Homo sapiens: one gene and its partners. The protein of the gene in region 1 interacts with the protein of each later gene in a pairwise test. Each region holds a gene or a part of one and is shown in the gene's direction. Other genes may lie near its edges. The genes, in order: JPH3, ALDH1A1, TAC3 and RBM45.

Region 1 (7,034 bases):
AGAGAGCACCCTCGCTTCTTCTACCATGTGAGCACCCAGCAGGAAGGTGCTGTCCAGGACCCAGAAAGTGGGTCCTCTGCAGACACCAAATCTGCTGGCACCTTGATCTTGGACTTCCAGCCTCCGGAACTGGGGGAAAGCAATGTCTGCTATTGATGAGCCGCCCAAGCTGCGGTGCTTTGTTGCAGCCCCAACAGGCTAAGTCAGGAACCGTGAACAGGAGACCTCCCAGGGAGTCTGCTCGGAGGGGGGATTTGTCGTGGGGGAATTGGTCATTGTGCCTCAGTTTCCCCATTGTTGGGGAAGTGGTGCCCATGGCCACTGGCAGGCCCCCCCGGGGGCCAGCACACCAGGTAGGAAGAAATGCAAGCCCCAGGCTGCTGAGATGCACAGAGCCCCACATTCTGCCTTCGGGACGTCTGTCTAGTCCCTTGTCTTACAAAGGGTGGGCAGGTCCCCTGCAGGACTCAGCAGAGGGAGAGACACAGTCAGGGAGCGGCCAGAGGGGTGACGTGCCCGGCTGCCCACAGGTACAATGGCTCCTTCGTGTCACACATGGGTGTCGGCGTCATCTTTCGGCTGGGTGAGGGAACTGCCCAGCTGCCCAAGCCCTGGGTTCCCAAGTCAGAGTTGCTGGGATTACTGGGCAGGGAGGTGGTCCCGCAACCCACACCGGGGCAGTGGCAGGAAGCACAGACACACACAGCACAGCGGGCCGGCACCGCCGGGGTGGGTTGTCTGGGCTTGGACTCTTTCTGTGCACATGCTGATGTTTGTTGATAATAAGAACAGAAACATTTTCTTTTTTTTTTTTTGAGATGGAGTCTTGCTCTGTCACCCAGGCTGGAGTGCAATGGCGTGATCTCCGCTCACTGCAACTTCCGCCTCCCAGGTTCAAGCAATTCTCCTTCCTCAGCCTCCTGAGTAGCTGGGATTACAGGCACGTGCCACAACACCCGGCTAATTTTTGTAATTTTTAGTAGAGACGGAGTTTCACCATGTTGTGCAGGCTGGTCTTGAACTCCTGACCTCATGATCTGCCCGCCTCAGCCTCCCAAAGTGCTGGGATTACAGGCGTGAGCCACTGTGCCCAGCCCCTCCCCTTTTTTTTTTCCTTGAGACAGAGTCTTGCTCTATTACCCAAGCTGGAGTGCAGTGACGCGATCTCAGCTCACTGCAACCTCCACCTCCCAGATTCAAGCAATCCTCCTGCCTCAGTGTCCCGAGTAGCTGGGACCACAGATGCGTGCCATCACACCCAGCTAATTTTGTATTTTTGGCAGAGACAGGCTTTTGCCATGTTGCCCAGGCTGGTCGTGAACGCCTGAGCTCAAGCGATCTTCCTGCCTTGGCCTCCCAAAGTGCTGGGATTACAGGCGTGAGCCACCATGCCCTGCCCAGAGGTGTTTTCAAGCATGTCCTGTGCACTGGGCCTGGTTGGTTGATGCTCAGTGATGTTTATTGAATGAATGAATGAATGAACGAACAAGATCCAGAAGTCTGAGGGTAAACATGGGGTGCCAGCATCTTGTCTTAGCCCAGCCCGTTGTTGGGGGGTTGGCAGAGTACCTCAACCCAGACCCCTGTCACCTGTGCCCCCTGCCCCCCCTCACGCTCCTCCCTGTCTCCCCCAGGACCTCCCACTCTCGGGCAAAGGCCGAGGCAGCCCTCACAGCAGCTCAGAAAGCCCAGGAGGAGGCGCGGATCGCCAGGATCACTGCCAAAGAGTTCTCCCCTTCCTTCCAGCACCGGGAAAACGGTGAGTCTCGCCGGGCCTGATACTGGCATCGTGGGGAGGGGGTGCGTGGATGGCTGGGCAGTCCTGGCAGCAGATGTGTCCTCCAGAGCGGGTAGGCTTAGATGGGCTCAGCCCCAGCTGCTCCCCTGCCCGGTGTCTTCCTCTCCCGCCGAAGGTGCTTGTTTGTGCCAAGGCCTGGCCTGGCTCCCCGGGACACAGGACATGTGTCTTGGCAGGTCTCTCCCATTCCCACAGTCCTTGGGGCACCGCGTGTTGCTTGCCGGCTGTCCCTGACGGTGAATTCCCACCTGCCCAGCCTGTGCTGTCTGCTGCCCGCCCTCCCCCAGTGTTGTTCTAGAACCTTCTGGGATGATGGAACTATCTGCTGGGTCCAGCGTGGCAGCCATTAGCTGGGTGTGTCTGCGGTCCTGGCTCTTGACCTGCCTCTGATGTGAACTAACTTACCATTAAACACACCCAGTGGCTGCTGGGTTGGACAGCGTCACAAATGGCAGCTCCCGCTGTGCCCCTCGGAAAGAGCTGGAAGCTGCTGCCTGATTTAGGAACCTCGTCCTCCCTTCGAGGGGGGGATCATGGGTGATACGGCCCAGTGACAGTGGCGGGGGCGTGGAGGGTGTGGGGTGGGTGGCGGAGAGGCCGTGGCCAGCTGCCTCCCATCTCCTACCTCATCTTGGAGGAAGCTTCCTCTGCACCAGGAGGCCCCAGAGAATGGGGTTAGGAGCGCGCCCCCTCAACCCGAGCTCTGACCGGTGAGCGGTATTCGGATGAGGCTCTGCGCGCTGGAGGTCCGCACCTGACACCACAGCCCTGAACTTGCTCGCAACGCCTGCCACTCTGGCCACCAGGACAGGATGAGGAGCCCAGCCTGGGGGCTGCGGGGCTGGGCGCTCCCCTGACTGGAACGCGAGACCACATCATCTCTAGAGGTGACCGTCCGCCACCACTCCAAGACCTTGCCTTCACTGGGCGAGTGCCGGGCCCTGCAGAGCCTGCAGCTGCAGCCTGGAGGTCAGGAGGACGAGCCCCCGCACCCCCACCGCCTTGGGCAGCTTCTATTCCACTGCGTCCCCTCCACTCTCCTGGCCCCTCCAGACACACGCACCCCAAAGTGTCCAAGTGGGAGGGCAATGGGCCACGTGCCCCTGTGGCCATTGGCATCCTCCATGGTCTCGCCCTCAGGCCCTGAGTTTCCTTCTCCCTGGGGCCCCTCCTTGCCTCGCCCACGACCAGCTGCCTGGGCTGGGAGGCGGTGGGGCGCACACTTGGGGGCACACGTGTAGCGTGCACGTGCATGTGGGGAGTGGGTGCAGTGCTGCGGGATGGACGAACGGAACAGGGATGCTGGAGAGGAAGCCAGTGCCGTCGGGGGCACCTGCCAGAACCCTGGCTGGGCCACTCCACGCAGAATGCACGTAGGACGGCATGGGATTCCACGTACCAACCCTGGCCCATGGTCGCCTCAGCTCCAGCCCTGCCTGCGACTCACATTCCACTGCCTGCGGCCTGTTTTGTTTCCTCTCAGAGCCTCAGTTCCATGTGTGAAAGGAAGGGGACCAGACAGGGAACATTGAAGCCTCCATCCTGTGCCAAATCCCCCAAGAGACGCATCCACCGGAAGCTCCCAACGTGACTTATTTGGGAGGAGGGTCTGTGCAGGTGTCATTATGGAACAGACTTTGAGACAAGATCAGCCTGGATTGGGGTGAGTCCTAGATCCACGCGGCGTCCTTAGAAGAGACAGAAGAGGAGGAGACAGGGGCGGATGGAGTGATGTCAGAGATCACTGGAGACTCCGTGGCTGGAGGGTGGCTGGAGCGGAGACCCTGGAAGGAAGCAGCACTCCCGACACCTGGATCACGGCTTCTAACTTCCAGAAACACGAGTTTGCCTTTTGGGTGTTTCTACCCCCACCCCCGCGTGGTGCTTTACTGCTCCAGTCCCAAGAAATGGGTGCAGGCTCCCCCACCCTGAGAATTCCAGTTAAGACTCTGGAGTCGGAGATGCTTCCTGGAGGGCTCAGTCCTGGAGTCAGAGGAGATGCTTCCTGGAGGGCTCAGTCCTGGAGTCAGAGATACTTCCTGGAGGGCTCAGTTCTGGATTCAGAGGAGATGCTTCCCAGAGGGCTCAGTCCTGGAGTCAGAGATGCTTCCTGGAGGGCTCAGTTCTGGATTCAGAGGAGATGCTTCCCAGAGGGCTCAGTCCTGGAGTCAGAGATGCTTCCTGGAGGGCTCAATCCTGGAGTCAGAGATGTTTCCCGGAGGGCTCAGTCCTGGAGTCAGAGATGCTTCCTCGAGGGCTCAGTCCTGGAGTCAGAGATGCTTCCTGGAGGGCTCAGTCCTGGACTTGGAGATACTTCCTGGAGGGCTCAGTCCTGGATTCAGAGGAGATGCTTCCCAGAGGGCTCAGTCCTGGAGTCAGAGATGCTTCCTGGAGGGCTCAGTCCTGGATTCAGAGGAGATGCTTCCTGGAGGGCTCAGGTCCCTGCAGGAGGGGCCTTGGGCTGACCTTTTAAGTCCTGAAGCTGCCTCCTCCGACAGTTCTTGTCTTCATGATACAGATGCGGGCCCCTGTGGGGGCCGCTGTGATGGAGAGACGGGGCCGCTGCTGCCTCACTGGTGGGAGTCCAGTCCTCGAGGGTCTGGCCAAGTTGGCCTCACCTCCTGCTGCTGCACCTTGGAGCCTGGCTCACTCTGAGCACCTCGGTCCGATCTGCCACCTCTTTGGGTGGCGCCCCGGAGCCTTCTCTGAGCAGCATCTTCCCTGGAGGGGGCGTTGGGACCGTGTGTTTTTTACAAGCGCTGGGACTGGCATGAGATTTGATCCAAGCATTTCTTGTTTCCGCCTTGGATGCATTCAGGATCAGTGTTCCCAGACCAGGCACCCCGGGGCCTTCTCGGCTGCTGGGGAGGGGTGGGGCTGGGGGAAGCTGTCCAGGTCCTTCCTCAGTCGTCCTCACAGCCAGGAGCTGAGGTCACCAATGACAGATGACAGAACAGAGCCTCCAAGAGGGGAACAGGGTTGCCAGAGCGCTCAGGCAGGATGTGGTGGAATCAGGATTTAAAACGAGGCTCTGAAGCCTGGGCCATGCCGGCTTCTAGAGAAGCAAACCATCCAGCGCTTCGGCTGCAGAGAGTGGCTGGCGCCAGCCTCTTGCTGCCTGTCTGGGAGGTCCCTGGCAGCCTCCCAGCCCGAGAACTCTGACCGTCAGGGTTCTGCCCAAGGCCACGTGAAGGCAGGACCATGAAGGAGCCTGGCCATGCGGTGTCCAGTGCCCAGGCCACTTCCGGTGCCATCCGCCCCCGCCCCAGAGGCAGGAGGACTGAGCGTCGGAGGCTGCAGGACGCAGGTGGCTTGAAGGCACAGGAAGAAGCTGCAGGGGCTTCACGAGGACCCGCCCTGCATCCTCACCACGAGGCTTCTAGGAACGTTACCTGCTCAGCAGCTCATTCTAGCTGAGGGTGCCCTCCTGCTGGTGGTGCTGGGAGTCGGGGCCCCTCTAGCGTGGGGTCTCCTGGGCCAGCCAGGCCTGATCTCGGCAGCAGTGGGTGGACGACCTGGTGGGAAAGGCCGGGGCGCCATCGGGGGATGGGGGGGGCCTTGATCCCAGCCTGCTAGGTCCATAGCGTCTAAGGCACAGGAATGCCAGCCCCTTGGAAGTCCCATCCTGGCCAAGGAGGAGGTACGATGTGGGTGATCCGTGGGCATGATTGGGGGCCTCTGATGGGGCCAGGGCTGCCCTCCACACAGGACCCTCACGGGGAGAGAGGTGGTGGGGCTGGGCGTCAGGTGGGTACGTGGATGTCAGCACAGTTCTACACAGACCTTCTCTGGCCCATTCCCTGCTCTGCTCGGGGGACACCCAACCAGCCCAGCCCTGTTTCTGGGGAGTGACCACAGAGAAGCAGTCATTGAGACCTCAGAGTGGCCCACCCACACCCCCGTGTGACAGGAACTCAGACTTGGGAGGGCTGGCCACCCACCCAGAGCTACCCAGCTGTGCCCCAAGCCCCAGGCCAGGGCCATGGCCTCGCTCTGCTCAGCACTGCCTCTTAGACCAGCAAGGAGGAGGACACAGCAGCCCAGCCTGGTGGCGTCGCAGCGTGCCCCGAATCTGCTTGCTAACGTCTCTTTACAAACGGAGGGACTATCTGGTGCCACACCGAGGGTAGCCATGTCTCCCAGACCTTCTCCTGCCAAAAGGTCAGACTGGGGTACAGGCGTCTCCCAGACCTTCTCCTGCCAAAAGGTCAGACTGGGGTACAGGCCAGGAGAATGTCCGAGCGTGAGAGACTCTAAGATGGGCAGTGGCTCTTGGTGTCCGAGCTGGTCTCATGAGGTGGCCGCCCCGGGTAGAGCTCTGAGACCTCCGTCCTCAGAGGGAAGACTCCCCAAATTCCCACAGAGCTCTGCACCATTTTGGCTCGGGCAGGACGGGGATGCTGGGGGCGGGGGTCCCACTGTTCTGTGCTGAGCCTAGGACGCTACTTGAGATGAACGTGTAACTGTTCCCCGGAGGGTAAGAAGCGCCGCGTTCTTGGGTTTCTCCTAATGGAATAAAGTCGGGCATGGCTCCCGTGTCCCTGCGTTGGCAGGAAATGAGATCCCAGTCAATGTTCTTGGTTCTCACCTCCTGCTGGGGGCTCACGGAGCTCCGGAGAAGTCTCGGGGCTAGTCCTACAATGCTGCCCCTCCCTATCCAGGCCTCCGGGTGGGGGCTGATGGGGACTGAGCCACCGGCAGACGACAGGGACTCTGCTGGCTGCAGAGCTGGCCCCTGGGTCCTGTGGTGACCTCCCCTTCCGGGGAGCCCCGCCCTAGGACTTGAAGCCCCAGCAGCCTCGAAAGGTGGGGAGGGAAGTCGGCTCCTGGGCTCTCACGCTGGCCCCGGCACTGGCTGTTTCTCAGCAAGACTGTCCCAGCACCCTGAGACACAGTCCCAGGCGGGTAGGGGTGTTGGCGGCCTTGCTGTGACAGCTCGGCCTCCCCAGACAGGTGGTCAGCTAGGGTGAGGGGCTTCCTCTTACCCTCAGGACAGGCGAGTCAGGGTTGGTGGGACCTGAGTCCACACCCCAGCGTCCTCACGCACTTTCCGAGCCTTGGGTCTCCCTTGTAGCCTGGGAGCTGCTGTCCGCCCTTCCTGTGGTGCCTGGGCCTAGCCAGTCTCCCTCCAAGTGTCTGTGGGGTGGGGACCACGGGGGTCCCACAGAGGGCTTTGGGAGCCACGGTCCCCACTCCCCTCCCTTGCCTGCAGCCTTTCGGTGAGTGGGAAGCGCCT
Region 2 (7,244 bases), on another chromosome or scaffold:
TTGTTGGATAATCTGCATGAGAATTATAAAAAAAAAAAAAAGAAAAAATTGTGGAAATCTCAAAGTAGTCTACATTTTGATTGACTCATTGATGTCTTTCATGTCTTTCTTTCTACACATTAAGGAAGCAAACTGGAAACTAGACAAAACACTATGAGTACTATTTATGCAAGATTATTTCAAATTCCAAGCAGCAAATCCAGTTCCAAGAAATGGCCTCAACCCATAAGGTTTAGCAAAAACCTATTTAAACTCAAATAATTATCTTACAGAGGCTTTAATGTACTGTTTCTTTTAGTGACCTTACTAATCAGTTAGTGTCCTGGTTAGACCAGATTAGAGGGGCATCTATCCTATCTCAGTAACACAAGCCAAAGAGAAGAACAATGAAAAGATATGTAAAGAGCAGGAGAAATCAGAGGTGAGGAAATTTTTCCAATTGAAGAAGAATGGCATGTGAACAGAAATTAGTCAACAAATACATATGTTCATATACTTGAATTCTGCCTTCCACTTCCATTTTTAACATCAACTTGTCAACTAAGTACAGACTCTCTCACTACATACAAGATCCACTTTTCCCAAATTATTAAAACTCAAATAAGCATAAGAGCAATGTGGTATCTGATAAAAATGTAGTAATCAAAAGCATAGGGATAGATTTCTTGCTAGGTTTACCAACAGGCAGACATGCTAAGGCAACAGAGAATAGTTAGGGGAGTGGTCATGTAACTGGAGTAGGAGAGGTTCATCTTCAATAAATGGTTCCAGCATCTTGAAATCAGGAAATATGAAAAGAAACTGTCTTAGTTCATTCAGGCTGCTATAACAAAAATTAATTTCTCACAGTTCTGGAAGCTTGAAGTCTGAAATTAGGGTGCCAACATAGTTGGGTTCTGGTGAGAGCCCTCTTTTGGGTTACAGATTGCCAATGTCTCATTGCATCCACACATGGCAGAAACAGCGAGAGATCTCTCTGGAGTCCCTTTTATAAAAGCACTGATCCATTCATGAGGGTCCTACCCTCATAACCTCATTACCTCCTAATATGATTTGGCTCTGTGTTCCCACCCAAATCTCACCTTGAATTGTAGTTCCCATAATCCCCACATGTCATGGGAGGGATCCGGTGGGATGTACTTTAATCATGGAGGGGGGTTACCGTCATCCTGTTCTCATGATAATAAGTGAATTCTCATGAGATCTGATGGTTTTATAAGGGGGTTTTCCCCCTTTTGCTGAGCACTTCTCCTTGCTGCCACCATGTGAAGAAGGACGTGTTTGCTTCCCCTTCCACTGTGATTGTAAGTTTCCTAAGGCCTCCCCAGCCATGCTGAACTGTGAGTCAATTAAACCTCTTTCCTTTATAAATTACCCAGTCTCAAGTATGTCTTTATTAGTAGCATGGGAATGGACTAATACACCTCCCAAAGGCTCCATCTCCTAATACCATCACATGGGGGGTTAGGATTTCAACATATCCATTGTGACTGGACAAAAAAAATTCAGTCCATTGCAGAAGCTATTTTTAATTCATCATATGACTTTTTTCAACATTTTTTTAAAAATTTTAAGTCCTGGGTGGCAGATTAGGTTCCTTTTATCTTTTCAGGAACTGAGGATTGGACGGAGTTCTGGAGATGTTTGTTGTAAAATGAAAGAGTAGTTTCAAGAATGGTTGAAGTCATAATCTATATGTTTCTTGGTATAATGAAAGCTTTCACAAATGGCTGGAGAAGTCAAATTCAAGAGATGAATAAACTATCCTCTTATGTTTCTTGCTTCTCTCTCCATATGTGTGTGTGCCTGTGTGTGTGTGTGTGTGTGATTTAGTTTGTTCATAAGGAGGAAAAAGAAGATGAAACATCATTTGTCGATTACTCTCAAGTTAAAGGGACAGCTCCTCCTCTGCTGCATAGTCCTGGCATACCATAAAAACGTACAATCCTGGGTCCAGTTCTAAAATGTGCAACCTTGGTCCCTAGGTTCTCACAAAAGCCATTATTTCCTCTGTAAGGAATAGAAGTAGTCTGATGAAATCTTTTCCTCATATGCAGCAATTCCCAGAAATATGCTATTCTACAAAATAAGCTCTCAGGGCAGGATGATGTTTACCTCAAAAATATAGGTCTCAGGCCCTGTGGTTTCTAGGCAGAAAAGATCTGCTTAAGTGAGGTTAGGGCTAAAGAATTATGGATGCATAAATGATACTTAGTAAATATTTGCTGAAATTAAATGGGCAGGTGTGGTAACCTGTCTCCAAAGCAACTCCTTTTGCCTACATTCAGGAATGCCTGGTATAAAGGGACTGTTCTTACATAATTATCCAATAAAATACAATTGAGAATGATCATATAAGAAGTGAGATGACAAGCCAAGTATGTTATGAAGCCTTGAGCTTTCATCGCCTGGACATCAAATAAACCAGTATTTGAATCCACAAACAACTGTGACTCTGGGAGAAGAAAGCAGCAAAACACAGCTGTTTGGGCATGGCCAGAGCGCCACTCTCAAGTTATGTAACAGCTGTTGTGTAATTGTGCATTTAACTCAAAACACATTTTTGAGAGAGAAAACAATTAGACTTTCCAAAAAGAAAGAAACAGAGAAATGTTGAAAGAACACAGAAGTTTCTATCTGGTCATCAAACATAAGACACGGGGGAGTCAAAGGCATTGGGAATGATATTGCCTTAGAATCTAGGGAGTTGGCCCGTGCACCAAATCTGGCCTGCCTTCTGTCTTTTTAAATAAAGTTCTATAGGAAAACAACTACACCCATTAATTTACCTATCATCTACAGTTTCTTTTAAATAGAGTCAAGTAAATTATATCAGAAACCATCCAGCCCAGAGGCTGAAAATATTTACAGAAAAAGTTTTGCAAATTCTTGTCTTAGATGAATAAAAAGTTATGTTTAAATGCCTGTAAGGGTGACTATTCACTGAGAAAACCAAAGCAGTTGATGCTTGAACCCATGTAGGAGTTCTCTTGTGGAGAATAGGGTAGAAATAGTAAACAGAAATAAGAGTCCAGGTTTGGGAGTCAGACTGGCCTGAAATGAAATTCTGGTCCTGCACTAATAGATCTGTGACCATAAGTAAGCTACTCACCCTCTGTATGTCTCTAAAATGGGGATATGAAATGAGGGTAGAAAGGGAAACAAGTGCTGCACCTGATTTGGGCAAACAATTCAGAAATTTTTAGTTTCCCTATGTAAGTCCCATATTCAGGGGAATTGGCAAGTTTCACTAGAAAAAAAAAAATTGGTTGATTCTCCACAATCAGAGCATCCAGAGTATTTTATCTTGTTCCTATTGTAACGTTTGCTAGAGCTACAATACAATAAAGTATTGTACTTAAAATGGGAGTAACACTGTTTAAAAAATTGTCCTTCAGCTAAATATTAATTTAAGAACTTGAATTGTTTGGAAGCCCTGCTTAAATTTAGTCTTTGTACACTGCCTATGTTGATAAATACAGACAACTTCCAAAACCAGGATTACTTTCATTTTAAATGAGTATTAATAGATGATATTGCCATATTTCTAATTGTGGTGATTGTGTGTGACAGTGTGTTCCGAATTCCCTAAAAGTCCTGCTGGCTTTTCTGTTCACATATAGAAAATAAAGATAATTTAGGGCTTCTGAGATCACAGTAGGTCTACTTACCCAGCACTGAAAATACACAAGACTGATACGATATTTTAAAACTAACTTAGGGTAGGGTGTAGATAAAGGGCCTTTCTTCCCCAAACAGCACCTTGATTTTCTGGGAGATGGACTGATTTCCTGAAAGCCTTGTCCTGAAGACACCTGGCCAGCTTCTACTGAGAACAAGTGCCCTTTTAGACTCTTTTCAATCCTCAAATTCTCTGATTCCAAGTCTGTCAGAGAACAGAAAGTTACATAGTAGCATTAAAAAGCATGAGAAGTCAAAAAAATAATAACTGGCCTTAGTGGCCAGAGCAGCTGCTGCATACACTTATCACAGGTTTCGGCTTTGTAAATTAATTCATCTGCAAATAGTGCACTGTCTCCAGGTACAAATTCGATGCTGGAGCACTGGTTTCTTAAGGATTTAAGTTTAAAGTCAAAGGCTTCCTGCCCTAGGTGTTACAAATAAGTAGTGTCGTTTTCTTTTTTTGCTCTGAGTTTGTTCATCCAATCGTATCCGAGTATGCAAATAAACTTTAGCCCGTGCAGATAAAAAAGGAACAAATAAAGCCAAGTGCTCTATCAGAACCAAATTGCTGAGCCAGTCACCTGTGTTCCAGGAGCCGAATCAGAAATGTCATCCTCAGGCACGCCAGACTTACCTGTCCTACTCACCGATTTGAAGATTCAATATACTAAGGTGAGTAAAACTTCTATTTTCTGCTTTGACTCGGGTTTGCAAAAACTGCATTTATGTAAAGCATTAAAGGTCAATTTAAGTAAACTTGTGTAAAGAGCCCTTTGCAAATATAAAAATAAAAGGCATGCAAAATGCAGGTCTCAGTTTAGTGTCCTGATCAAATATGATCTAAATCATATCAGACAATCTTTCATAAATTTATTTCTTAAAATATTTCCAAGCGAAAGGAATTCTCTTCTGTGTGAAAGGATTCTTATACCAGGATTCAGAGGACTTTACTAAGCACTTCTATTAACTTCACTATAGCCGGCATGTATGATAAGAGAGCAAAATACTCACTAGAGAAGCTTACTGGAAAGAACCAAACGAGTAGGAACAATAGAAAGCAAACAAGGAGAAAGAGAGCATACTGAAATAACATAACTTTCCAATATGTTTAATAAAATGAGTGTTAAAATAGGGGGACTTAAGTCTGATAATTGGATTCGAAAATCTTCAGATGGACTTGCATTATTTTGCATATTTTGGTGGGAGGAAGAAAAGCATTATTTCTTCAGCCAAGTTTGTTGCCATTGGAGCAGATGTGTAATTGTTAACTGATAAATATTTAGAGAAACAAGAGCAGGAGCTAGATCCAGACTTTAAAATCCGCAGCTGGGGGGAACTAGGAAATGGATCCTGCTTGAGTCGTTCTGAGAGTAACTCTGAACTTTGCCTGTTTCACACTGCTTTCCTGTCAGATCCTAGAACTCCAAAACAAACAAATGAATAAAACACAATCTAACCAAAATTACTTGAAGTTATCTTTATGGTGTGATGCAGAAAGTATGGTAAGAAATTAACTCTTGCAAATCAAGAGAGAGCCATTTTGCTGTCTGAATTAGCCAACAGAAAAACAAAGGGCATTATAATTTAATGATAAAGTAAAAGTCCCCACTGTTATATATTTATTTCCTCACTTGTAACCATGGATGGCTTTGAAATCCCAAGGTCTGTTGCATTTTCATTTTCATAAAGCACAACAAATGAGGAAGTTGCTCAGCTGATTGGCTCTTTTCCTCAGGAAAGTAGCAGCAGAGATCAGATTGTGCCTTTAACATGGTTGACCAGCAGCTATGAAGTGTATTTTAAGGTATTGTTATCACGAGGTTTTGTTAAAGAGGAAAGATTTTTTCCATTTAGTTTTACTACAAATGGTAGCATGAAAAATGCAGTAAATCCATACCGTCAAACAATTTACATTTGGCAAAGGTATGTCCAAAAGGTTGCAAGAGTCCAGTCTCCCTCATTTTCTTATTCCAAGTTTGTCATTCACAAGAAATTTCAATTGAAAGTGGGTACATTTAAAAATACATTTCATGAAGCTCAAAATTGTCGACAATGCTCAGATTATTGTATTACTATTATTAATGGGATTTTTTTTTTAATAATACTACCTAGGAAGATATTTTGGTAGTCTGGATGCCCCTGTCTCCCCACTCCTTTGGCTTTGCAGAAGTTTGCAAAGTCTTCCTTGTGTGTGTATTTCAAGGAAGCTCTAATGTAAATAACCTTCCTGCTAAATTAAGCTTCACTTAGTAGTCATTAACTAAGCATGTAAGAAGCGGTACTAGACAAATGAGATGGTCCTAAAAATCTAACATACAAGCACAGACCTAATGAACCCTTAACACAGAGAGATGATTTTGAGATTGAAACCTATTCACTTCGAAGTCACTGTGCAACAACTCCCCTCTAGGGAAAGTGACTGACCTAAGTGTCCAAAAGAAGGCAAGACTCAAAGAGCAGGCGTTTTGCTCTGTGTTTAAGAACTTTTCTGGGTAAAAATACTCCAAACAAGTCAGTGAATTTTGATTTCTCGTGCATCTTCTATATAAATCTGTTCTGCTCAGATAGCATTTTATTGTTTAATTTATTGGTTACAGCGTTTTCACACTTGGGAGGACGCCAGTTATGTATGTAATTAAATCTAAATGGGTGAACTTTTTCAAATGCCTTCGCATTTTTTGTTTACTATGTCCCAGTGAAGAATTGGATTGAATTTGCTCTTGCAAGAGGAGTTAAAAAAAAAAATGATGGTTATTAACTATAAAAAGTTCCCTGGTTACAAACCAAGTAAGCAAGGAGTTTATAGTGTCTGAGGAATTATCTTCTATTACCAGCCCCTAAAGTCTTGTGTTATTTTTCTGTTACTATTCTAATGTCCTTTTTTATTATTATTATAGCTAGAAGTATATTGGTTGTTAGGACAAGTTGGAGAGAACAGACAGGGTTGAGTAAAAAAAAAAATATTACAACTACGATAGAAAAGCTACATACTCTCAAGCTTGGGACTGCTTTTCACCCAAACAAAAGAATTTATTGATGCATATGTTTTTATGACTTATTTTCTAGTACAGTCTGATTATTTCTTTGTTGGGGTAGATTAAAGAGAGATCAGAGTTTAAGAAATGCTTTCTAAAATTATACAAAAGCTTTTGGAATTTAAAACCTCAAAAACATCGCTATAAATTCACTAATATGAACTCATATCCCATCCTTATCCTCATTACTCCTCTTTCCAACTCTAAATGAACCCCACATTTTCCATTTTATTGAGCCTTTAAATGAAGAGATTCTTTGAAAGTTATGTGATCATTGGGCAAGCTACATTACTTCTCTCTGCCTCGGTTTTCTTATGTTTAAAATGGGGATGATAAAGGCACGTATTTTCTAAGGTCGATGAAAGTATTAAACGAACTTAATGCGTACAAAGCCCTTGAAATAATGCCTGGACATGGGAAATGATTTAACGTTAGTGATCCTAGTCCTATTTTTCTGAATCCTTTCCAGTTTTTCCAGAATATTCCCTTTTACCCAACCTTTCCTAGACCTGTTTCCTACAAGTA
Region 3 (4,064 bases), on another chromosome or scaffold:
AGGGGAGAGGGGAATGAGGGGCAGGATTCTGAAGATAAGAGGCCTGGGAGATCCTTTCAGATGGGAGAGAGATGGGGGATAGCTTAGTGAATCGGTGAGGGTTGTGATCTGAACCCCGCTCTCATCACTTTCCAACTTCACTCCCCATTTAGACATCTGTTCTTGGTTTCACAGATCCTAAGGAATCAACATCTCCCGAGAAACGTAAGTACCCTCTTCTCCCTCCCTATCTCTTGCCACTTGCCCAGAGCTCTGTGGGGCATTGGGCCCAGGGGCCATTTTGTCCAGCCCCTTCTCACCTGGTACAAACAATATGCCAGCTCCCACTGCTCAGCCAACCTTTCCTGAAAGGGAGAGGCCATCCAGAACTAGGAGGAAGCTGGTGTGAGGGGCATGGTGGGCTCTCCCTCTGCTGGCTGGTCCTTGGAAAACAAGGGGATCTCTTCGTGGCCCTGAAAATTCCAAATCAGGCACCTGCTAGAGCAGAAAATTCTTGAAATGTGGAGGAAGGAAAGGTGAGCAGAGAGAGTGGGTTTAGGGGAGGCACTTGCTAACTGTGAGGAGTCATGCTTTGACAAGAAAAAGGAACAGAGACCAGAAACCCAGTCTCAGAAGTGTTGACCCATGTCTGGGGAGATGCTTCACTTTCTCATCATCACTGCTGACAATGTTGGCCCTTTTCTGCAGGTGACATGCATGACTTCTTTGTGGGACTTATGGGCAAGAGGAGCGTCCAGCCAGGTAGGAGTGTGTGGAGGTACAGTGGAAGGGCTTAGGGTACTGGCAGAGTATGACAGAAGTCACGTGCCTCATATTTGTCACCAGAGGGAAAGACAGGACCTTTCTTACCTTCAGTGAGGGTTCCTCGGCCCCTTCATCCCAATCAGCTTGGATCCACAGGAAAGTCTTCCCTGGGAACAGAGGAGCAGAGACCTTTATAAGGTAGTCCTGTTGCAGCTGGGAGGAAGGATAGGGAGACTCTGCTTCCACCCCAGTCTCCCAACTCTGTCTTTGAACACTGCCCGTCATAGCCAGCCCTTTGCTGTTGGATCAGGGTGTAGTTCACATTCAGAAAGATCCCTCTTACTTACACTGTTCGCTTTACCCTAGACTCTCCTACGGATGTGAATCAAGAGAACGTCCCCAGCTTTGGCATCCTCAAGTATCCCCCGAGAGCAGAATAGGGTAAGGATTGTTCATTAGAGAGGGGAGAGGGGACTGGGGAGGGGGCTGTGGGGGTTGCCAGCTGTGCATTTCCTCCCATGCTACAGGTATTAAAGCTCATAGATTTGCCCTGAAATACACTGCCAATGCCCAGCACACTGTCGGCCAAACACAAAGACACTTAGAGGCACGTGTGTTTGTACACATCCCCCGTCTTTCATCTCTTTCCTCTGGATCATGGACGGCAGCTGACTATTGAGCAGGAGTGAGTGTTGGGAGATGAGGAGAGAGGGGCTTCCCCGATGGGCAATTTCTGTTGTTTGGACTTCATTCTTTTGTAATCTATGCAAAAAGATGGAGAAATTATTATCTGATAATTACAAATACCACAACCAATTCACAGGCAAGCATTTGCCTCCCAGGCAGGCTGAGCCTTTCAAATCACTCAGAATCCTGGGTTACGGGGCCCAGAAGGTAGTCATACACAAGGATGATTCAGGAAGAAATGCAAGGAACTCTGAAATCTAATGGGGATTAGCAGGAAACCATATCTGAATCTCTCTTTAGCATAATGAATAAGAACAATGGCCTGAATGTGAATCCTGGATCTGCCACTCTATCTGTATCTTTTTGGCCAAGGTACATATCCTCCTGTGCTTCAGTTTCCTCATCTGAAAAATGAAAGTGATAATAGTATCTCACAGGGTTGTGGTTTTGAGGATTGAGTATAGGTAAAGTGTTCAGAACAGTGCCGGGTGCACAGTGCTGTGTGCCAATTTTATGATAATTGTCCCAGTTTGGGAGGTATGGGGGATGTCCTAATGTTTCCCCTGACTGGCTCTGTCTGGACCCCAGGCCTGAGTGGGCTGACAAATTCCTCACTTGGTATGCGAGTGTAAGAGTCCCCCAGGGAAGTGTCTAGTCAAAACACGAACCTTCCGCCTTGACACTGTCTTCCCACACACAGCAAGAGCAGCTCCACCAATGGCTTTCTTTTCACTAGCTTCCAAAGAATTGGGGTGGAGGGAGTGAAAAGGAGAGGGAGAGAGATTGGGAAGGCTCGTAATCATGGAGAGCCTCCTGCTTTTCTCTCTGTGTCCCTGTTACCCATACTCACTGGTCTCAAGGTGGCACGCCCAAGACCCAAGGAGCTGGTGCTTGATGATGCTGCCTGTGCATGAATTCCTGGGACCAGAGACTGAGTCTGGCCCCCCATTTAGTGTTGGGTGAGAGGGCACAAAGAGCTATAATAACTGTAACTTGCTGATTACATGGTAGTTACTGTATCATTTTGCTCTCATTAGATGGTTATTTCAGTCCTGCCGACGGCCAGATAATTATACGAGCAGCTATATCTGGATGACATACTCTGCTCCAGCGTTATGCACTGGCCATAAAGATAATTACAGTGCAATTTTGCTATAGTATTTTATACAAATGGCAAAAACAAGTGCATTGTGGAAATCTACTTTTAATGCTTGTTTGTGCATCCAGGCTCTTTCAGAGGGACCCATAATTGCAGCTTTCATAATCTTACCATTGAGGGAGCATTCCCAACCTGTTAGGTGTCAGGCAGAATAGGACATAAGGTTTCTGGGAGCTGGCATTTAAAGATTAGATGAGATGGATCAACACAGATCATTGTGTCATCTGATTTCATTCATGTGAAACTGTAAGTAATCCCTGGGCCTGTGCTTCCTCTGGGAGGTTTCTGGGAAGAGGAGGAACTGGATAAGGCAGGGGGAGCATTCATAGTAGGGCACCTTGGGCAGGGCTGTGTGTGTGTCTGGCTCATGGTGGTGCTAGGATGGCATGAACTTGGTTCCTACATCTTTGGTCCACATGGGCCCCACTGGCCATGCACACAGGTGTGTAGAGTAATGTAAATATGGCAGCTGGGAAGGTGCAAGTACCTGCGGCTAGGAGAGTTCCATCCTCAGGCCCAAAGCCTGGAGGGCAGGCTGAGGGTCAAGACTTGTTCTTTCCTCTCTCACAGACGCCTCTCCCCTTCTCTCCTGCTGCCACAGCAGGTTTTCAGTGGGACTTTTTTACAGGATATAAGATGTGATTTCAGTGTTTTTTTTTGTTTTGTTTTGTTTTTTGTCCTCAGTACTCCACTTCCGGACTCCTGGACTGCATTAGGAAGACCTCTTTCCCTGTCCCAATCCCCAGGTGCGCACGCTCCTGTTACCCTTTCTCTTCCCTGTTCTTGTAACATTCTTGTGCTTTGACTCCTTCTCCATCTTTTCTACCTGACCCTGGTGTGGAAACTGCATAGTGAATATCCCCAACCCCAATGGGCATTGACTGTAGAATACCCTAGAGTTCCTGTAGTGTCCTACATTAAAAATATAATGTCTCTCTCTATTCCTCAACAATAAAGGATTTTTGCATATGAATGATGTGGTGTGTGTGTTTACTTGTTTGGTTGGTGGGTTTTTCTGTTCCTTGACTCCTCCAGCTACATGGTAAATACACACATACTTATGATACACACACTTCATATTTAAATGTAAATAACTTTACATATCTTTTTGTATATATCTATTTCCTGAACAGTGCCTTACACAGTGCTTTGCACGATGAGTATCAGATTTATTTAGTGATTAAAATAAATACACGAATTTGGAAGATGGTTTCTAACACACAAAGATTTTTACAGACCAGTTTTAGATAAAGAAAAAACAGGCCGGGCCCGGTGGCTCACGCCTGTAATCCCAGCACTTTGGGAGGCCGAGGCGGGTGGATCACGAGGTCAGGAGGTCGAGACCAGCCTGACCAACATGGTGAAACCCCTTCTCTACTAAAAATACAAAAATTAGCCAGGCATGGTGGCGCATGCCTGTAATTCCAGCTACTTGGGAGGCTGAGGCAGGAGAATCGTTTGAACCCAGGAGGCA
Region 4 (7,204 bases), on another chromosome or scaffold:
CGCTCCCAGCAGTCACCTGGAACAGCCACCTGGCCAGAGTCCACGCCTCAACTTCGAGGCTGGCGATCCAGAAAGAGCACCTCACGCCCTGGGCTGCAAGCGCAGCCGGACGCGCGCGACCAGTGATCGCCAGCCAATGGCAAGCCGGGACCCGGTCCCACTGCTGATTGGCCCCCAGATCCCGTGGGATCTCACCTCTCGCAGAGGCTTAAAGCCTTGTACTTGCTGTGCAGTGCTTGGCTCTGCGTGCCCGCTGTCCAGTAGCTGTGGATAGCTCTTGAGCTGTCGGAAACTGGCTAATTCAACTGAAGAAATGAATTTTTAATTATTTTCATTATAATTCATTTTAATTTTAGGTAATTTTAAGTAATTTTAATTTAAATAGCCACAGTCACCAGATGCTTTAATGAAACTATTCTAAGTGGTATCTATGAATTTTGTCCTGTGATCTACACATTTAAAAGATGTATGTCATCAAGTTGAATCAAAAGGAGCAGGCATACTGTGAAAAAAAAAATCAGGTGTTAGATATTATTCTCAAACTCAAAGGCATGCAAACTCAAGAAGGAGACTACCATTTCTTGAGTGCCTGCCACAGGTCAGACTAAGTAATTGCCTACGTTATCAGTAGACAGTAGCCTTACAGATGGGTCAAATGGAAACTCTGGATCATATTCATATACAACAATCTGAAAGCTACTAATTGATCACCAATAAGTCTTAGTTTTAAAACCTATAAAAAATTTGCAAATAGGGCGAAATATTTTTAGTTAATTGATGTAACATATGAAGACTAATATCACCAACTAAGTAAGCCTCATTGTACTTCAGTTTGGAAAATAATGACAAAAATTTACTATTTGCTCCTGGCATTTCAAAAATTAGTCACAATATCACCTCTCATTTTTAAAAAGAAAAGATTTGAGGGAGAAAAAGTTTCAAAAAAATCTGAATTTCATGTGAAACAAACATGTGTGCACATTCTAATAACAGTGCTTTATAGGCTACATGTTCTAAAGCCTTGAAAAAAATTTAATCTGCAAATGCCCAGCACCTGGTTTCTTCTATTAAGCAGACTAACTAAAAATCATTCTTTTAAACCTCAGACATTTTTAGGTGTTTTAGTTACATGTAATTCATGTTCAAAGGTTTTATGATTTGAAATATAACAATTTGGTCATTGAGTGATGAAATGTTCTAAAATTGATTGCGATGATGCTTGCACAATGCTGTGAAGGCACTAAAAACGATTTAATTGAATACATCAAATGAGTGAATTGTATGATGTAAGAATTAGAACTCACTGGGTGTGGTGGGTCTCACCTGTAATCCCAGCTACTTAGGAGGCGTAGGCAAGAGAATCACTTAAGGCCAGTTCGAGATTGCCCTAGGCAACATAGTGAGACACCAATCCCTTAAAAAAAAAAAAAAAAAAGAAAAGAAAAAATAAGATAAGAAGAAGAATTATATCTCAATAAATCTGTTTAAAATAAATACATGTCATGAAGAAAATGTACTTACTTTTTTTAATTTATAAGTAAATTTCTAATTTTCCTTGAATATGTCATATTTCACATAATTGGATAGTAAAGAAATTTTGCTTTTCTGGCATTTTCCAATATTTGCGTTCCTGGTTTTGTTTTATGCAATCTTTTATCTTTTTTTGAGAAAAGAATTAACTGTTCTCAATAACAGCCTAAAATTTTCAGGACACCAATCAGTAGTCTTATTTCACAAAGAATAGAGATTGCCCAGTCAGGACAATTTAAGAAAATTACACATTTTCCACTAGATGGCACTGGTTTGCAAATAATATTGCTTTGCAGTTCCTCTCATCAACAAAACTCACACTATCAAATTATTTTCATTTACCTTGATTGTTGTGGGTAGGAAAAAGAGAAATGGAAAGTCAAGAAAAGATACTTCCTAGAGTTGTTCAGCCTCAGGGTAAACAGAACCCTCACTACAGATATGGAATGTAATACAAGGAGAAATTATAAAAATCTTAGTGCTAAATCCAGGGTGACAACCCACAATCCCTGACTCTCAGTAGTCATCACACAACTGTATAATATCAGTGGTGGGGGAGTGGATACCATAGTCAAAGGGAACAAGAAAATTAATCTCAATTATACCATTATACAAATATTATCTCATTTGATCTCTAAACTATGAACTCCATATATATTATCTTATATGAGCATAACTATATAAGGCTAAATGATTAACTCTGTGGGGGAAGAAGAGTAATTATTTTGTTCAATACTACATCCCTTCAGTATAACACAGTGCCTAACACATAGTAGATAGTCAAAAATACTTATTAAGTGAATGGGTGAATTAATTAAACTTGATAGTCATGCTCCTGCGTAGCTATTAGGCGGCTATCAAGCTTAACTAATCCAACCACAAAATAATATGTATTACCTATTTAGTAGGTAATATTATTCCTACTTTACAGTTAATGAAACCGAAGCTGCAAGTATTAAGTAACTTGTCCAGGCTCACACAATTCAGTAGCAAAACCATGTAACATAATCTGATATTACTTTGCATTATATATTTACATGTAAGATTTCCACAGTGGGGGAAAACAAGCCCTCGGGACATGTCTTTCCTGTTCCTCATTATATATCTAGCTCCTGGCATAGAGCCTGGCACACAGTTGGAGTACAATAAGTATTTATCTGGTTGACTTCATAGCAACCTAGGTCTTAGCATCCAGAACTTGTTCATTTGAAGAACTCCGCCCTCGGTCTACTTAGGGGTTTATTCCTTTCACTTCATTCCAATGCCACTGCTAAATCCAGGCCTTGTTTCTGGATTTCTACTGGGTTTCTGACCTCTCCTCTAAGGCTTGTTAACAAGAAGGCATTTCCCACTTTGCTTGCACTCTATGATTTCTCTTAGTTCCACAGCTGAGCAGTCCACCCTCACTGCCCTCCAACCCCAGGGTTGCTTGTAGAAGTTGAGTAAATCAACAGATGGAGTTAGTTCTGGGTTTTTTGTTGTTGTTGTTGTTGTTTGAGGTGGAGTCTCGCTCTATCCCCCAGGCTGGAGTGCAGTGGTGCAAACTCTGCTCACTGCAAGCTGTGCCTCCTGGGTTCACACCATTCTCCTGCCTCAGCCTCCTGAGTAGCTGGGACTACAGGTGCCCGCCACCACGCCAAACTAATTTTTTTGTATTTTTTTGGTAGAGACGGGGTTTCACCGTGTTAGCCAGGATGGTCTCGATCTCCTGACCTCGTGATCCGCCCGCCTCGGCCTCCCAAAGTGCTGGGATCACAGACGTGAGCCACTGCGCCTGGCCAAGTTAGTTCTGGTTTTAGTCGTACTTTTTATCTCTATTACTTTGGCTATGCTATAGGCCTCAGTTTCCTCATCTCTAACAAATGACGCTGAAATTGAATGATCTCAAAGCTTCCTTCCAACTCTAATGCTATATAGTTTGAACTCTGTCCTATATTGATCATCTATTGAGCTTATGACCAAGATGGTGACAACTCTCCACTTTGACCAAAACTTAGTTAGGCTCCTTTGAGTCCTCTGCTTGACTAGGCTTGATCTTGGGCTTTCTGTCCTTGTAGAATCCAATTTGAGCAAGAATCCTGCTGAATCAGTGTAGTGAAAATCCTCATTCTTGGTGTCTGACTACCATGGATATCAATCACCCTGGCCTGCCTTCAGCAACTATCCTGTCAAGTTGGTTTAGCCAGAATCCTCCTTAACACTGATGTTCCCTCTTTGTAATTTTCCATCCACTGACCTCCCACCAAGCTTCTTGGTTAGAAATTTGTCCTTATTAGAGTCAAAATTCAGTCCAATCTCTCTCTCCCACTGCAAGACCCCATTGCAGCTGTCCCTGGACCTATCTCCATGGCTCCCTTTGTCAAAGTCGGCCTTCCTGTACCATCTCTAACGAGTGTCATGAATAATTTTTTCTTTAACACTGGAAAGAATCCTTGGCCTTAGGGGTGGGGTAAAGCCAGCGTTGGGAAAGCCTGTGCATTAGGCAGCGCTGTTCTGCCTGCAGGGAACGATTGCACAACTGATAACTTGGGCCTAGGCTCAGCTGGATTTGAGGATTTGAGACTTAGACTGGGTCAGGGTCCCCCGCGTCGCCAGGGGGCGCTGCAGGCCGCTCCCCGGAAGGCCTCATCCTGCGCGGCTGGACAGCGCCTGGCGCCGGACTCCTCTTTCTCCCGGAAGCGGAGCACCGAGCCGGCAAAGGCTTGGGTGTGAGACAGCAGCGGTGGCAGACACCGCAGAAGCAAAGAGCAGTGAGGCTCCTGCATTCGGGTGGAGCACCATGGACGAAGCTGGCAGCTCTGCGAGCGGCGGGGGCTTCCGCCCGGGCGTGGACAGCCTGGACGAACCGCCCAACAGCCGCATCTTCCTTGTGATCAGCAAGTACACACCTGAGTCGGTGCTGAGGGAGCGCTTCTCGCCTTTTGGCGACATCCAGGACATCTGGGTGGTGCGGGACAAGCACACCAAGGAGTCCAAGGGCATTGCTTTCGTCAAGTTCGCCCGCAGCTCACAGGCCTGCAGGGCCATGGAGGAGATGCATGGCCAGTGCCTCGGCCCCAACGACACCAAGCCCATCAAGGTGCGGGTGCCCGGGTCGGGGTGCCCTCGGGGGAAGGAGTGGGCCTCTTGGACCTCCCTTCACCTGCTGCTCTGCCGGGGTGAGGGAGGAGTGGAACATCCGTTCCCGGCAGCTGACCAGACAGCACCTGGCTTGGGGACAGGGGCTGCTTTGAGGAGAGGCTCCCCTCCCACGAAGCTGCGCCGGGTTGCAGGGAAGGGGACGGGATGCGGAGTGTTTGCCCCACGAGAGCGGACCCGGCAGCCGCGGCCACCGGGTGACAGAACAGCAGTGGCTGGGCTTCCCCTCTCCCTCGCCCTCACTAATCCACCAGCTCTTGAGTTCACTGCCAAACTCGTCCTAGCCTACTTTGAGTACTTTTCTGACCTTCCTCTCTCAGATGCCCAGATTTCCATATATAAAAAACGGAAAAACTCTACTTTTCCTCAGGTACAGATGAGGCGTTAACAACTTGACAGAAGTACTTTAAACTGGGGAGGGACCTCTGGTGTTGGACGTTTTCCTAGTACCAGGCGAAAGAATACATGTACAGAAAGAATAAGTGCAGGTGTTTAAAACGGTCACTGTTACATATTCTTCACATTTTGTTATTTTGGAAAATTGTTTTGAATGAGCTCTGTTTCTGAAAGTGTTAATAGCATACATTTGGTTCTTGACCCTTTCTGTTACTGCAACTTTTCTTTGAAAGCAGACCAAAGTAAACTGCCTTAAGAAGAGCCAAATCATTGTGATAATGACACATGGCAGGAAGGATCATTTTGAGGGTTATTTGACATAATATGTGCTGTCAGCACAGTGCCTCACACAGGGTAAGCCCTCAATAATGTCCTTGTTATTGATCAGTAGTAGCCAAGATGTCACAGCTTACTCCCTGTGATCTCAAATCAGGACTCAATCCTGAGAATCTGGCAATTGCTTAAATTGTAGCCTTCGTCTGCCCCATGTAAATAGTTGCTGTGTATGTTATTCTGTTGGTACTTTGCACAAAAATATTTTCTCAATTTTTTAAAAAATTGTTTTCCAAACTGAGAATGGTATTAATATGGATTTATGTAAATAAAGGGCTCAGAGATATTTCAGTCTCTGGAGGTCTTGCTCCATCCACCAAAGAGAAGGAGCCTGGGACTCTACCAACAACACAGTAAACAGTCCCTTCCTCCCACTTCTCCAACCCTCTGAAGTGTGTCAGAGTGACAGCAACAAAATTAATTGTAGGGCCACAGCATACAGGATCAGGAATTGGCAAACTTTTTCTGTAAAGGGCTGACTAGTAAATATTTTAGGCTTTGCAGGCCACATACAGTCTCTGTCACATAACCTTGTCTGTTTTTACAGTCCTTAAAAACTGTAAAAACAATTATTACATCATGGGCTATACCAAAAATGGAGCTGTGGTTTGCTGACCCCTGTACTAGACTAATGAATTTTATCGCTGTCCAATTATGACCTTAGTGGAGAGGATTTTTATATTTTGAGTGTAACATGGCCACAGAGCCCTTGTGGGCAGCCCAAAAAACTGTCCCATATTTGAAATTGATGGACCACCTTCCCCTGATAAATTTCTATAAGAGAAATTAAAGGCCCAACACCGAAATGTACCCTCTCTTTTAGCCTCAGAGAAATTAAAGATCTTGTTCCCAAAAAGAAATAAACTTTACTATTTTCTTTGTCACATTTTTGACTATTCAGTTTTAGCCAGAAGGTTGTTTCACTGTAGTACCTAGCTAGACAGTCTAGTTTCTGTTTCTTTTTCTTTTTTTGAGACAGAATCTCACTCTGTCACCCAGGCTAGAGTGCAGTGGCTTCTTGATCACAGCTCACTGTAGCCTCCACCTCCCAGACTCAAGCAATCCTCTTGCCTCATCCTCCCTCTCGAGTAGCTGGGACTACAGATGTGCACCACCATGCCCAGCTTATTTTTTTTATTTTTCTTAGAGACAGGGTCTCACTATGTTGCCTAAGCAGGTCTCAAGCTCCTGGACTCAAGTGAGCCTCCCGTTTCATCCTCCCATTACAGTTGTGAGCCACCACACCCTAACAGACTAGTTTCATTCAGCAGCTGCAGCTTGAGCCATCTTCAACTGGAACACTCTTGGGTTGTTTTCAGCATTTCCAGTTAAATTAATTCAGCTTCAATATTTCTATTGTACTTTGCTTTTACAAAGTTTCAGAGGATCTGTAAGACAACAATATTATCTTACCAGCCCTCAGCCAGAAAAGATTGTCCAAGTAAAAGTTATTCTGTGACCAACTATGTTATCTGGCGGAAAGGGGGAAACCTAGAAAACAGAAGAAAAAAATCTTGGCTGTAGTTTTGCAAGAATGCTTCTTATCTAGAGCCTATGAACACTCAGTCTATGAAGGTAAAAATTTATGGGAGAAATCTACCATGAGGAGGTTAATTATTTTACGTATGTTCTACATAGACTGTCTCCTTTATCAGAGATTTGAAACACCTCAGTCCTCTAAAATATAGAAATCTGTGCTCTGATGGCACTTCCAATTTCATCTTACCTGAGGTTCTTTTTTTTTTCTCTAGTGTCTTTGCATATACTTAAAGCTTCCCTATTTGTATTTCCCTATTTACCATTTATT

The links.
Region 2: the proteins of JPH3 (region 1) and ALDH1A1 interact in binary tests that used the Homo sapiens proteins (3 or more experiments, as listed by UniProt).
Region 3: the proteins of JPH3 (region 1) and TAC3 interact in binary tests that used the Homo sapiens proteins (3 or more experiments, as listed by UniProt).
Region 4: the proteins of JPH3 (region 1) and RBM45 interact in binary tests that used the Homo sapiens proteins (3 or more experiments, as listed by UniProt).

The regions. Positions count from the first base shown.
Region 1 is NC_000016.10:87,682,508-87,689,541, forward strand, and holds part of JPH3 (junctophilin-3), read left to right. Parts: intron 1-1,634; coding exon 1,635-1,759; intron 1,760-7,034. UniProt on the Homo sapiens protein: Junctophilins contribute to the formation of junctional membrane complexes (JMCs) which link the plasma membrane with the endoplasmic or sarcoplasmic reticulum in excitable cells.
Region 2 is NC_000009.12:72,950,047-72,957,290, reverse strand, and holds the start of ALDH1A1 (aldehyde dehydrogenase 1A1), read left to right. Parts: upstream 1-4,237; 5' UTR 4,238-4,290; coding exon 4,291-4,356; intron 4,357-7,244. UniProt on the Homo sapiens protein: Cytosolic dehydrogenase that catalyzes the irreversible oxidation of a wide range of aldehydes to their corresponding carboxylic acid.
Region 3 is NC_000012.12:57,009,499-57,013,562, reverse strand, and holds the end of TAC3 (tachykinin-3 isoform 1 preproprotein), read left to right. Parts: intron 1-174; coding exon 175-204; intron 205-687; coding exon 688-741; intron 742-825; exon of another isoform or gene 826-942; intron 943-1,110; coding exon 1,111-1,184; 3' UTR 1,185-1,185; intron 1,186-1,271; exon of another isoform or gene 1,272-1,429; intron 1,430-3,274; 3' UTR 3,275-3,563; downstream 3,564-4,064. UniProt on the Homo sapiens protein: Tachykinins are active peptides which excite neurons, evoke behavioral responses, are potent vasodilators and secretagogues, and contract (directly or indirectly) many smooth muscles. Is a critical central regulator of gonadal function.
Region 4 is NC_000002.12:178,108,238-178,115,441, forward strand, and holds the start of RBM45 (RNA-binding protein 45), read left to right. Parts: upstream 1-4,199; 5' UTR 4,200-4,309; coding exon 4,310-4,609; coding exon of another isoform or gene 4,610-5,038; intron 5,039-7,204. UniProt on the Homo sapiens protein: RNA-binding protein with binding specificity for poly(C). May play an important role in neural development.